4 linked regions of the Homo sapiens genome follow. The protein of the gene in region 1 purifies or fractionates together with the protein of each later gene. This does not show direct contact. Each region holds a gene or a part of one and is shown on either strand. Other genes may lie near its edges.

Region 1 (3,500 bases):
GCCATTTGCAGAGGTGTAGGTATTGTTATATGTTTATATTTCAGTTTCTTGTGCACTTGTTGCTAATTTAAGAAGTTTCTGAGCTGGGCACGGTGACTACACCTGTAATCCCAGTACTTTGGGAGGCTGAGGCGGGCAGATCACGAAGTCAGGAGTTCAAGACCAGCCTGACCAACATGGTGAAACCCCGTCTCTACTAAAAATAGAAAAATTAGCCGGGTGTAGTGGCACACGCCTGTTATCCCAGCTATTCAGGAGGCTGAGGCAGGAGAATCGCTTGAAACCGGGAGGGAGAGGTTGCAGTGAGCTGAGATCGTGCCAGTGCACTCCAGCCTGGGCGACAGAGCGAGACTCCGTCTCAAAAAAAAAAAAAAAAAAAAAAAGACGTTTCTGGATTTCACTACATGTTTCAGAAGCCATTCCTCAATCACTTCCTATTCCATTGTTTTATTTTCTTATATCTATTACCATCTGAAAATATTTATTTATTTATTTTTAGTCTGTCTTCCTCACTAAAATATAAGCCACATGAGGACAAGGACTTAGGCTTTTTTTGTTCACTATTCAGTATTTAGGACAGTATTTAGGACAGTCTAGCATATAATGGGCTTAATAAACATGTATTAATTGAATGGTCAAAAAAAATTTTTTTTTCTCCATTTTATAGCCTGCCTTTACATAGGGTGCCACTAGATGGCAATCATGCCTTTTTAGGCACTATGATGCTGGAGTTTTGGGGCATTAGAGGAAACTGAGAAATTATTGGCTCAAAGTAGAGAACTTGAGGTCAGAATTAATGAGCTTAAGAATTGAGAATGTGTGAATTATCACAGCAGCTCAGAGGGAACTATAAGAACCAATAATATTCGAGATGGTAAAAAGTACTTAAAATGAAATGTACAGTGTGGCTTTTTGTTTGTTTTTACTGCTCCATTCCTATTGCCTAAAACAGTACCTGGTTTCTAGTAGGCTCTCAATAAATAATAAATATTTTGTAAATGAATAAAACAGGGCCTAACTATATTCCTCTTCATATAAGTTCTTTGTTTGAATGTACAAATGGTTGACATTCTAGAATACTTTGGTCAGTATTATGGACTTAGAATATGAAATTTCTGTATGGATATAAATTTCTACAATGACTGTATTTTGAACCAGGTTTTTTTCCTGGCAGAAGAAGTTGTCCTCAACTATCAGTAGGTTTTTAGAGGTATGTATTGAGTCTAAATTCTAGATTCCTGTTTAGTTATTAGCAAAATAATTATAAGAAATTGAAGACAAGTTAAATATAAAATAGAAAGATATTGTTTGCTCTTGTTCCAGATGAACATCACTCGAAAACTATGGAGTCGAACTTTCAACTGTTCAGTCCCTTGCAGTGACACAGTGCCTGTAATTGCTGTTTCTGTGTTCATTCTCTTTCTACCTGTTGTCTTCTACCTTAGTAGCTTTCTTCACTCAGAGCAAAAGAAACGCAAACTCATTCTGCGTAAGTTTTTTACAATTATTTATTTTATAGATAAAAGCCTGTATTTTAAAAATTTAGGCCTGTTTTAGAAATGATAGCTACTCTGAGAACTCAAAGTAGATTAGCCTAAAAGGACTCTCTGCTTTAAGTTTTACAATCATGCTTACTAGTGAAAGAGATCTGTGAAAATTTTATAAGTGTGGACAATAAAAAGTTAAAACAGGGCTAGGTGCAGTGGCTCATGCCTGTAATCCCAGCACTTTGGGAGGATGAGGTGGGCGGATCACGAGGTCAGGAGATCGAGACCATCCTGGCTAACACGGTGAAACCCCATCTCTACTAAAAATGCAAAAAATTAGCCGGGCATGATGGCGCATGCCTGTAGTTCCAGCTACTCGGGAGGCTGAGGCAGGAGAATCATTTGAACTTGGGAGGCGGAGGTTGCAGTGAACCGAGATCGCACCACTGCACGCCAGCCTGGGAGACAGAGTGAGACTGTCTCAAAAAAAAAAAAAAAAAAAAAAGTTAAAACACAGTGTCTTTCAGATGATTAAATTGAGAAAGCTAGATTACCCCTGGAATAAGGTTGGCAACAACAGAAGAATAACAACAGAGGCTTTGCACTCCTAACATGGCAATAGCAGGGAGATACAGACAGCTCTTAGACCCATCGGAGTCATGGTAGAACCACCTAAGTGTGGCAGGCAGGAAGAAACTATAGCTGACATAACAGACAGTTTGTTTGTGAACAAATTGGAATCGTAGTTCCAAGGAGATTACTTGATATAATAGTATATGCTCAATACATATTAATTCCCTTTCTTTCTCCCTATGAAATAGGCCAGAGCAAAAGAAGCACTAACTAGAGATCCCATCCAGCTAAGGAAGAGTGGCTTCTAAGTCACGTGGCTTTCTTGTTTATTATCAGAATGAAAGTACAGGCTTATGCCTTAATAATTTTAGTTTTTAAAAAAGAGAACTGTTTAGGGGAAAAGGTTAATTTTCTTTTCTCTCAAATACTATTTGTAGTCTAGGAATGTCTGATATAAAAATTCTTTTCCCTATAAATTTCGATCACTACTTCATCTAACTTCACTTCTAATATATCTAATTTTTTTAAAAAAAGGTTACCTGTAGATCAGTTTGAACTGAATTTGTAATGTTTTGTCACCTTAAAATGCTAGCTACTAGAGGGGAGAGTCTTTGTCATGGGTGTATTTATTAAAGGTTTTTTGAAGGCTGCCAGCATTCTGTAAATATGCAGTAGCTCAGGTCCTTAAAGCACTTACTTAGAATAATAGCAAAATATTGTGGGCACCTCACCATTGAGAAACTATTTTTCAGAGCTTGGTATACTTTTAAAGTTTAGCATCTTATTTGCCTTGCTAATCTATTTAACTTTATGGAAAGTATTTACTGCTTCTGATCAGGATTTTTTGTTTGCTGTCAAAGTAAAAGTCACTACCAGTGTCACTATTTGCTATGGAAGCCACAAACCTTGTAGTCATTTCTTAATTATTTTCTTTCTTTTATTTTTCCATTCCCACATTCCCCTCTCATCCCCTTTTAATTCATTAGCAAGTATGCTGCCAGTTCTGCTTAGTCCGTCTCTCTCCCTCCACTGGTAAACCCTAGCCCAAACCATCTTCATCTCTTATCTGTACTAACGCAAGAGCCCCTTAACTGGTATCCCTCCTTCCATTTCTTGATCTACTAAAATCCATACGCCACATAGTGGCTAGAATAATTTTTTAAACACAAATTCACCATGTTTCTCTACTAACTTGGAATGCTTAATGTGTTCCCATTGTACCTAGAATAAATCCAAACTTACTTTCCAGGGTCTGCTCTCCAAGCTGTACATGACCTGGCCCATAGCCACCTTTCTAAACTCGTCACATCCATTCTCCTCATTGCTCATGGTGCTGTGGACAGTCTGGTTCCTTTCTGTTCTTCTCCACTACCAAGCTCATTCACACTGCCCCTTTTCCAAGGCCCTTCCCTCTTTACTTACCTGGCTTCTTGCAAGCCA
Region 2 (3,005 bases), on another chromosome or scaffold:
CACTGAATCCCAGCTCTGTCAGGGAAATAAAAAAGTCTCAGCTACTTCCCCAAAATTTTTACATAGATTGAATAAGGGAAGCATACATAGCTCAGCACAGTGGTTGTCACATATTAAAGTCAATAAACGGTGCTATTTTAATATTGATAACAGTGTTTAAACATATTTCAGTGTTTGCTAAAATCTTAGTAATATTAAGTCCTCTGAGGAATGCACTTATAAAGCACACAACTCCAAATCACTAAAGTCATCTGACTGGGAAAGCGGGAAGGGGAAAGAAATTAAGCTTACAGAAAATGCTTTTTTGTACTACAACTAAAACTATAACTAAAACTACTTTTTTGTACTACTATAACTAAAGAGTCATAGGTTAAAAAAAGGTAAAATTAGTCTGAATAAAAAAGACTAAGACTGGTAAATTATTAAATAGCAAGCACATAGTACATATTACGTTCCAAGAACCAATTTGTAACTTATCCTTTGGCAGTGATAGAACAGAACACTTTTACAATTTTTTAATTTCAAATACTGTCATTTTCAAAATACTACTGTCATGGTCTTTCAGATTTCATCTGTTTTTATCAGAACCTGGAAGAGGGAGGGAAGATACATAAGATGATAATGTATGTATCTAGGACTATATCACAGGCTACTTCTACACATGATTTTAAGTAAATCTCCACTTAATTTATAATTAAAATGATTTCACAATAACTGTAAGCTCAAAATATCTGAGACAGCTCTCAAGTCAGTTTAGAAAGTTTATTTTCCCAGGGTTAAGGTGTGCCCATGACACAGCCTCAGGAGGTCCTCACCACATGTGCCCAAGGTGGTTGGGGCACAGCTTGGTTTTACACATTTTAGAGAGACATGAGACATCAATCAGTATGTGTAAGGTGTACATTGGTCTTGAAAGGCAGGACAACTTGAAGAGGGGCGGGGGCTTCAAGCATAGGCAGGTAAGAGAGAAAGGGTTGCATTTTTTTGAGTTTCTGATTAGCCTTTCACTGAATATACAATTTACATGTGAGAGGAGAGTAGAGGAATAGTCAGTTATACCTTAATCTGGCTTAGTGAAACATGAAACAGAGAAAGCAATCATTTATGCATTTGTTTCATGTGAAGACTTTGAGTTCTTTGTCCATAAGGAATTCCCTTGTGAGCAAATTTTATCTTTGTGGCTGTCTTATTTAGGAATAAAATGGGAGGCAGGTTTGCCTCAATCAGTTCCCAGCTTGACTTCCCTTTGGCTTAGTGGTTTTGAGATTTTTCTTTCATATAACCTTAGTATAAAATTCATCCTTGATAGTGTTTATCCCTAAAAGACATTTTCTTCATTCAATTCATTCAAGGTAGAAGATAAAAATCAATGGCTAAATGATGTTGTCTTGCTCTAATACAGTCTGCAGTCTGGTTTGTTCGTTGGCTGAATAAACATGGGAGCTGAGAGCTCTGGAGAAATACAGCCATTTACTGGCTGTGAAATCTCAAGTTAACTACTCTAAAATCGCTTCGATTATGAAATTTAGACAATAATTATTAAAATGTCATTATGAGTTCCTGGTAATACCAAACACCTGTCATTTTACACAAATGCGTTTTGAATGTCTGAAAGACAGCTCCTGCCCTTAATTTAGATGTAAACCATTTAGTTTCAAACTAACCACCTGATAAAATCTATAAACATTTTATCATTAACTAGAGCAGATGTCTGTTATTTGATGTCTATGTTATTTGAGTTTACTGTTTAATAAGTGAATTCATATCAATTAATCCTGCTAACAAATTTGACACTTAAGGTGATTCTGAAAATCCTTTAAACTTAAAGTAGATGGAATCTTAAGTATGGGGCCTTTTAGTGTCCGTAAAGAAAAACTGCATGCAACAAAATATAGCAGGTCCTCACTTGTTGAGATTCATGGAAATTGTGACTTTAAATGAAATGACATGGCTGGGCATGGTGGCTCACACCTGTAATCAGCACTTTGGGAGGCCACGGTGGGTGGATCACGAGGTCAGGAGTTCAAGACCAGCCTGGCCAACATGGTGAAACCCCGACTCTACTAAAGATACAAAAAATTAGCCGAGCATGGTGGTGCACGCCTGTAATGGAGGCTGAGGCAGGAGAATCTCTTGAACCCAGGAGGCAGAGGTTGCAGTGAGTCGAGATTGTGCCATTGCACTCCAGCCTGGGCGACAGGGCAAGACTCTGTCTCAAAAAATAAATAAAAATAAAATGAAATGACGCATAAACCAATTTTTTTTCCTCATCGATGTTACAAACCACTTAAGGAAATGACATCATTCAAGAACATTGTGCTACGTGTCATTTTGCTTAAAGTCAGTTTCTAAGAACCTTTCGATGGCATTTAAGGACTTAACTGTAGTTACAATTGAGTGCTTACTATGTGTCTTGCACCTCTGAATATTTAACGTATTACCTCATTTAATCTTCACAACAACAACTTATGTAGGTAGTAGTATAATCTCGATTTTACTGAAGAGGAAACAAAGGTTAATCTGGCCACGGTCACCTTACTAGTGAGTGGTTGGAACAGATATTTGAGAACAGGCAACATGGCTTCAAAATCTAAGCTCTTGCCTACCCACTAACTACTCCCTTTCAACGAAAGACTAGTAGGTTATTTGAACCTGAATACCCTGAAAGTAACAAGCAAATTTTATAATTTTCTTTCTGTTGTCAGCATATTACAAATTGCAATGAAAATTCTTTGTTTTCCCACCAATTATTTAGAAGATTGTGTTTTCAGAACTTTTATAAAAGCATCTTTTGGAACTTCAACGTTGCCAATTTTCCTCAGCTTTTTTTTCCCTTCTGCTTGTCTCTTCAAAAGCTTCATTTTTCGGGTAATATCACCACCATACTGAAAAATATTTTAAAACATTGGAAGTCTAAGTCACTCTAAAGAGAAACAATCATATGATTACAGCGGCATCAGTACAACCTTAACAACCATACCAAATTATTATCCATAAGGCAGACA
Region 3 (3,500 bases), on another chromosome or scaffold:
AAAAAATCCAGATAGTACAAAGCAGCATTCAGTGTGAAGCCTTTCTTCTACCCTGACACCTTAGTTCCCCTCCCCAGAGGTAGCTGGTTATTCATGTGCACGTGTCCTGCTTTTTGTCACTTCAGCGTATAAGCAACATGTAAAATGTGTAAGCATTCTATTATTGACTTGTTAGAAATCCTTATTTATGATTACATAATTATCACTGTGTGATGATTAACCATTTTTCTATTACTGAACATTTGTTTTAGTCTTTAGGCTTGTAGGCTTTTATATTCAGGGAATATTTTTGTGCATGAAATCTGCATTTTGAGATTTTTTTTTTTTTGAGACATTCCTATGTGGGGAACTATTGGGTCAAAAGATATATAATGTAAGTTTCTTGATATAATCTAAGCAGATTTGTTAAACTGTTTTCCTAAACTTTTAGGCTTATACTAATTGAATATATTTCTATATGTATATATTTAAGTGTATTTACCTTTTAACATGTGTTGTCTGCTTTGGGTGGAACAGGGAAACACCAGACCCAAGTTTCCAGGAAGAGTTCTCTGGTCTCCTGCTCTTGAAAATGTTACGATCAGCTATAGAAGCATCCAAGGATAAAGACAAGGTAGACTCACAACAAAACCCAGTATCTCCCAAACAGATAGTTAATGTATTGTAGCTGCAGTGTGGTAGTTCAGTGTGGCTTGATGTTCCTCAGACTGTCCCACCAAATGTACTCCTGTTCAAAAGAGACTGAGGGTGTGCTCAGGGTATAAATGGCCCATTCCACACGTGTATGGTTTCTTTACTGTCTCCTGCCTCCTGAAAAATATCAGTGCCCATTGTAATACTACATGACATATTCAGATTCCTTTTAAAATTAACTTTTTTTTATTTTCCAAAAAAAAAAAATTGACAAGTCAGAAAGATGAGTAGCTCTTGGCTTTGAATATTACCTGTTAAACTAATAAGTTTAAAAAGCACATGTCTGGGCTTTAGGTCAGACATACATGGATTCAAGCCCTGGCTCGCCCTTTAGTAACTGGGTAAGTTTGGTATATTACATAACTTCTCTGAAGGTCAGCTCCTCACATGTAACATGGAAGTTATATACCTCACTGGATATGAAGATGCCTTATGTTAAAGCACCTAGCACAGTACCTGACCCATACCATGTGCTCACTTTAATACTACTTCTGAAAATCTGGTAATCACCCAGGAAGCCCTACCTCAGAGTAATTCAATCAGAAATTCTGAGGTTAGGGCCTCCGAATCGGTTTTAAAACAAAAGGAGAAACCTCCCCAAATGATTCTGATGGGCTGCAGAGGTTGAGACTCTAGTCTAGTAGAAAAGTATTGGACTGGAATTATGGAACCTAGCTTCTCCTCATTGTCTTGCTATCAATCAGCCTTGTCCTGTTGTTCCCGGTCCTTATACTCCATCTCAGTAAAACAAGGAAGATGGACCTCTCTGAGGTCCTGTCTAGCACTAAATAAAATAAATAAATAAATAATCAGAGAGAGGAGTTCTGTAGAACCTCACATTTCTGATGGCTCAGGATGTTAACCAGAGCAGACCTTGTGAGTTCCAAGGACTTGCTTTAAGAAGTTGAAGACCTCCTGGGTTTTTTTAAAGCTGAAATTAGACTTTTGGAAACATCTCTTTGGCCAAACAGATTTCTAAAGCATTTACATTTTTTCTAGGTAAAAAGCAATGCAGTCCGGGCCCTTGGAAATTTGCTTCATTTTCTGCAACCCTCTCATATAGAAAAACCCACATTTGCAGAAATCATTGAGGAGTCTATCCAGGCCCTAATTTCTACTGTTCTAACAGAAGCTGCCATGAAAGTCCGATGGAATGCTTGTTATGCAATGGGAAATGTATTTAAAAATCCTGCCCTTCCTTTAGGTAAGAAAGTTTCCCTTCACTCCCTGGTGGAAAGCCTCTTGGGACACACACCAATCTACGTTGTTGTTAAAGATGTTTGTCACATGTTATTTGTCATAGTATTAGGAAAAAATGGAGACATACTGAAGACAAGTTTAGGGGGACATTGAAATACATCATTACCTATACAATGGGATATATAATGGGATATTTTGTTGCCATTTAAAATTACTTACAAGAATTTGATAATCTGGAAAAATACTTCTGATGTTAAACAAATGAAAGCAGGTATTAAATAATTTCTACAGAATGATCTCAATAGATGGGTAGAAAAAAGACTGAAAGGAAATTGGACTAATTATTAACAGTGATTGCCTCTGGATGGGTAGGATTTTTTCTGTTTTCATTTTCTCAGTTGTCTACAATAAGCATATATTACTTTAATGGTCAAGAAAACAGGAAGGAAAAAAACTGGAATGAGAGGGAATATAAACTGGAAATCCCCTATGAGCTGTGTACAGAAGTGGATGCCATTAATAAATGTAAGGAGGGCATCTGTCTCTAAGTAGTGGCATGCCATGCACCTTGATATGTCATTCAGGACCAGTAGCTGCTTAGGTGTATGGATCGGAGCCTCCAAACCTCGCTCACTTTGAATGCCAGCGTTCGCTTTATTGCATCTCTCTCTCTCAGATCTGAGACCTAAGGATGTGTTCCTGGAGAGGAGAGCACACATCAAGTGAGGGGAGTCTGGCTCTGCTCCCCTTTATTGCCCAGAGCGTCCAGGCAGACCAGTCAGCTGGGAGTATGTAAGGTAGCTTCCCGGCTTCTTCCATTGAGGAAGTCACCTAAGGGTGACCTTTTGGGTTGGAGCCCATTGAGGTGGTTATCCGCCTTCTGGAGAGCCAAGAAGTCCTTGAAACCAGGGCACCTCAGTGGTGGTTGGCTCCTACCAGCCTTCCTGTATGGCCCTTGCCCTCAGCCTACTAGAGAGAGAAGTTTACCTGCATGACTTGGAGGGAAAGGGAAGCTCCAAAGAGGCAGGAAGTTTGAGAACTAGAAAGCATCCAGTAGCAGAGCTATCAAGAGCCACATAAGAAAAGGGAGCTAGAAACTGATAAAGGACTCTGACGGGTCGGATTGTGAGTGTCTCATAGCTCTAGCAGTGGCCCATTGTCAATGGCACTGGCATCCACCAAATGGAAAGGGCCTGCTTGCCGGTCTTCAGAGGCAACAGAGAAGCCAGGAAGGGCTGGGAGAGTTAAGAGAAGCTGCATTCTACTCTGTCACCCATCTTGAGTAAGGACACCCCAAAGTGGAGTGGGTAGCAGTAGCTCTGGTAAGGAGGAAAGCAGGCTGATTTCCTAGGGCCTACAGGTGTGGAGAAAAGATAGAAATCTGGGCATCTTATTCTTGAAATTGTAAGTTTTCTTTTTCTTTGCAATAAAATGCATGACTGGCTATGGCCAGAGCAGTGTCTGGATGCTGTTGCAGGTGAGCATGCAGTGTGTGGCTTGCACACAGCTCAGAAGTGCCCAGCTGAGAGGATAGGTGGGGTTGCAGTTCAGTCCACGCTCTGCCCACAAAGCCATACCCCAACGGGACAGAATCCTCCCAGAGAAGA
Region 4 (3,500 bases), on another chromosome or scaffold:
AGACATGAAACAAACATAGGTTATCAGTTTTCACAAATTTTTTAAAAAGTATAAACACTTCCAGAAGGTCATACTTCTATCAGAAAACCAGTAGTATTCAACTAGGAGCATTAAAAAAAGAAAAACTTATCTAGTATAACTCCTTAGTTGTATGCGACTGAAAATTAACATTTTGTTAATCAGTATTCTGTTTAGGAATTTAACAATACATAGAAGATACATGCTTAATACATCTTAATGCAATTTCAAATTTCGACTTGAGAGACTATGGAGTTCCAGGAAAATCAGTCAAGCTTACAAAGTACTGCTACAGCTGACAGTACTTTGAATGAATGGTTTCATTCAACAAACTTGGCTAAAGAATAGCTTCTCCCAGGTATTAGGTGCAATGCATTTCTGAAAAGTATCGAGGAAAAAAGCATCTCTCTTGCTGTGCTTCTAGCTCTATAGAACAGAGTTTCATCAAGGGTGAGGCAGGCAAATTAGGGGTGGGATGTTGAGTATCTAGTGTCAAAGACCAAGAAAGAAAAGACAGAATGAGAAGATCATAGATGACTACACTGAAGCATCAATATTCCTTGACAGAAGGGTATCTGATGAGAGAGAGGACAGAGATATGAGAAGGCAAGAATAGCAGAAGTAACCAGAATCTAGACAGTGGCATACTGAAAATGAGAAGAAATTTTAAAAATCAATTTATTAATTGAAAAAGGCAAGATACAAAATAGTATTTCCTTTAGGATTACATTTTGTAAATGTATAGTCAAATGCACACACAGGTGAAAAAGAATATATGTAACATATTAACAGTGGTTATTCCTGAGTGGTGAAATAATGACTTTTTTTTTTGCTTATCTGTGTTCCATGCTAACACTGGTATAAAATGCAAAAACTGGTATGATGATTTTGCATTGGACAGTAATGAACACCCACAGGATTCAAAGATAAAAAAAAAACAGAAATAATAATCTTGCAATGTTAACCACAAGTTCTGCTTTTCTCAGAATATGTTCTTTAGCACTAATTTATCTCTGAACTAACTTGCAAAGGCTGATTTAAACCAATTTATCAAGTCTAAGAGCCCCATCAATTTCATCATAATAAATTATCAGAATTCTAAATTATCTGGTCTGCTGGGAATGAACTAAGGGGGCCAAAAGGACTGTTACTGATGTGTGTAGAGAAAAGAAAGTAGAAGCCTGAAAAAAGAGAAAGCTCCAAGCTTTTAAGATGACAATTAGGCCAGGCACGGTGGCTCACACCTGTAATCCCAACACTTCGGGGGGCCAAAGCGGGTGGATCACGAGGTCAACAGATCAAGGCCATCCTGGCCAACACGGTGAAACCCCGAATTTACTAAAATCCAAAAAATTAGCCAGCGTGGTGGCACGTGTCTGCAGTCCCAGCTACTCCGGAGGCTGAGCCAGGGGAATCGCTTGAACGTGGGAGGCAGAAGTTGCAGTGAGCTGAGATCATGCCACTGCACTCCAGCCTGGTGACAGAACAAGACTCCCGTCTCAAAAAAAAAAAAAAAAAGACAACTAAATTAGAACTCTTTGTGTTAATGAATCAAATGTATCAGTTGTATTAAAAATAATGAATCATATAAGTCCCGACTGTCAACAGTCTGAAAACATAAAGCAATTTCTCCTTATGCTGTAGATACATGAAGTATGATCTTACCTTAGACATCTTTTGTGAAGCTTCGTCTGTTAAAAAAAAAACACACAGACACACATAAACGCACATACATAGTATGTATGTATACGCACGTATATTTAACAGCGTGAACTGACCTGAAGAAGACTTACACATACATAGGCAATGTAAAAAGAAAATACAATTTCAGGACCTTCCAAATGCATTAGGCCAAAGGGAAAAGTTAAGCACTGACAGCTGGCTCGTGTAACATCACTACTTTTATTCTTTCTGACTTTTGTGTTTAGATGTATATATTAACCAGACCCCCTATTCTTTATTCAAAACTAGACTAAATGACTGGGAGATGAGAGATCCTTATGACTGTTACTTCTTTACAAAAGGAAGTTAAACAAATCCCTTCAAGTGTAATCAATAGTAGCCAATCAAATTTGTATCTTTAAATGAGCCTTAGTTCCGAAAATGTTATAATTCTGTTTGGCACCTCCATTTTGCCTATATAAACAATCCTCATTTTTCCCCACCCTGGGAGCGCTAATCACCATTCTTTGGTGTAGCTCGCTTACACTCTGTACTTAAATGAATTCTTTTAACTGAATCAGGAGCCTTTTGATTATTTTAGGTGACAGCATCTCAATTACTTCAAATATTTCCCTAGGAATAAGACAAGCATCTATCATTACAAAAATAAATTCGATTAAAAAAATTAGGCCAGACGTGATGCTCACGCCTGTAATTCCAGCACTTTGGGAGGCCGAGGTAGGCAGACCACTTGAGGTCAGGAGTTCAAGACCAGCCTGGCCAACATGGTGAAACCCCATCTCTACTAAAAATACTGATTCAGCCAGGCATGGTGGCGCTTGAGGTCAGGAGTTCAAGACCAGCCTGGCCAACATGGTGAAACCCCGTCTCTACTAAAAATACTGATTCAGCCAGGCGTGGTGGTGCGTGCCTGTGATCCCAGCTACTCAGAAGGCTGAGACAGGAGAATCGCTTGAACCTGGGAGGCGGAGGTTGCAGTGAGCCGAGATCATGCCACTGCACTCCAACCTGGGCAACAGAGTGAGACTCCATTAAAAAAAAAAAAAAAATTAGATGGTGGCTGGGTGCAGTGGCTGACGCCTGTAATCCCAGCAGTTTGGGAAGCAGAGGCAGGACTGCTTGAAGCCAAAAATTCAACACCAATCTGGGCAACATAGCAAAACCCTATCTCTACAAAAAATTAAAAAATTAAAAAAATTTTTAAGTTGATAAAAGCAACTGTATATATATATGTACGCACATATTCCATATTTTCAATAATATTCAAATTTTTTTTCAGTACTGACTATATGTTAGACACTAGGGACACAAATGGGATACACACGGATACATACTTCCCTGACCTCTGGAATTATGTCATTTCCCCTCTCTCTTTGAAACCTTTCAAGGAGTAAGGGACTTCATTACATAGAGCACTGTAACTTGAACATGTTTGCCACCCACTGGAGTTTCCTAGAGCTACCTGAGAACTAGATTTTGACACTGGGGTACAGAGAGCAATGTGAACTACATTTATGAGGAAAGGAAATAGTACTGAAGGCATCTGAGTGTCTGAAAAATGTGACAATATTTTTAAAGATATGTGGAATTTTTTTTTCTCTTTTCTTTTTTTTTTTTTGAGACGGAGTCTCGCATTGTCTCCCGGGCTGAAGTACAGTGGGTGATCTCAGCTCACTGCAACCTCCACCTCCTGGGTTCACGCCCTTCTCCTGCCTCAGCCTCCCGAGTAGCTGGGACTACAGGCGCCCGCCACCATGCCCGGCTAATTTTTTTTTAATTTTTAGTAGAGATGGGGTTTC

What was found. Proteins that work in one complex are often made in the same cells at the same time.
Region 2: the proteins of OSTM1 (region 1) and GUF1 purify together in Homo sapiens (affinity purification with mass spectrometry; one large-scale study listed by BioGRID and IntAct). This does not show direct contact.
Region 3: the proteins of OSTM1 (region 1) and HEATR6 purify together in Homo sapiens (co-immunoprecipitation; one large-scale study listed by IntAct). This does not show direct contact.
Region 4: the proteins of OSTM1 (region 1) and SEPTIN2 fractionate together in Homo sapiens (co-fractionation; one large-scale study listed by BioGRID). This does not show direct contact.

The regions. Positions count from the first base shown.
Region 1 is NC_000006.12:108,047,242-108,050,741, reverse strand, and holds part of OSTM1 (osteopetrosis-associated transmembrane protein 1 precursor), read left to right. Parts: intron 1-1,158; coding exon of another isoform or gene 1,159-1,210; intron 1,211-1,323; coding exon 1,324-1,489; intron 1,490-3,500. UniProt on the Homo sapiens protein: Required for osteoclast and melanocyte maturation and function.
Region 2 is NC_000004.12:44,698,424-44,701,428, reverse strand, and holds the end of GUF1 (translation factor GUF1, mitochondrial), read right to left. Parts: intron 2,886-3,005; coding exon 2,748-2,885; 3' UTR 501-2,747; downstream 1-500. UniProt on the Homo sapiens protein: Promotes mitochondrial protein synthesis. May act as a fidelity factor of the translation reaction, by catalyzing a one-codon backward translocation of tRNAs on improperly translocated ribosomes. Binds to mitochondrial ribosomes in a GTP-dependent manner.
Region 3 is NC_000017.11:60,044,422-60,047,921, reverse strand, and holds part of HEATR6 (HEAT repeat-containing protein 6), read left to right. Parts: intron 1-516; coding exon 517-613; intron 614-1,692; coding exon 1,693-1,897; intron 1,898-3,500. UniProt on the Homo sapiens protein: Amplification-dependent oncogene.
Region 4 is NC_000002.12:241,322,425-241,325,924, reverse strand, and holds part of SEPTIN2 (septin-2), read right to left. Parts: intron 1,710-3,500; coding exon of another isoform or gene 1,693-1,709; coding exon 1,684-1,692; intron 1-1,683.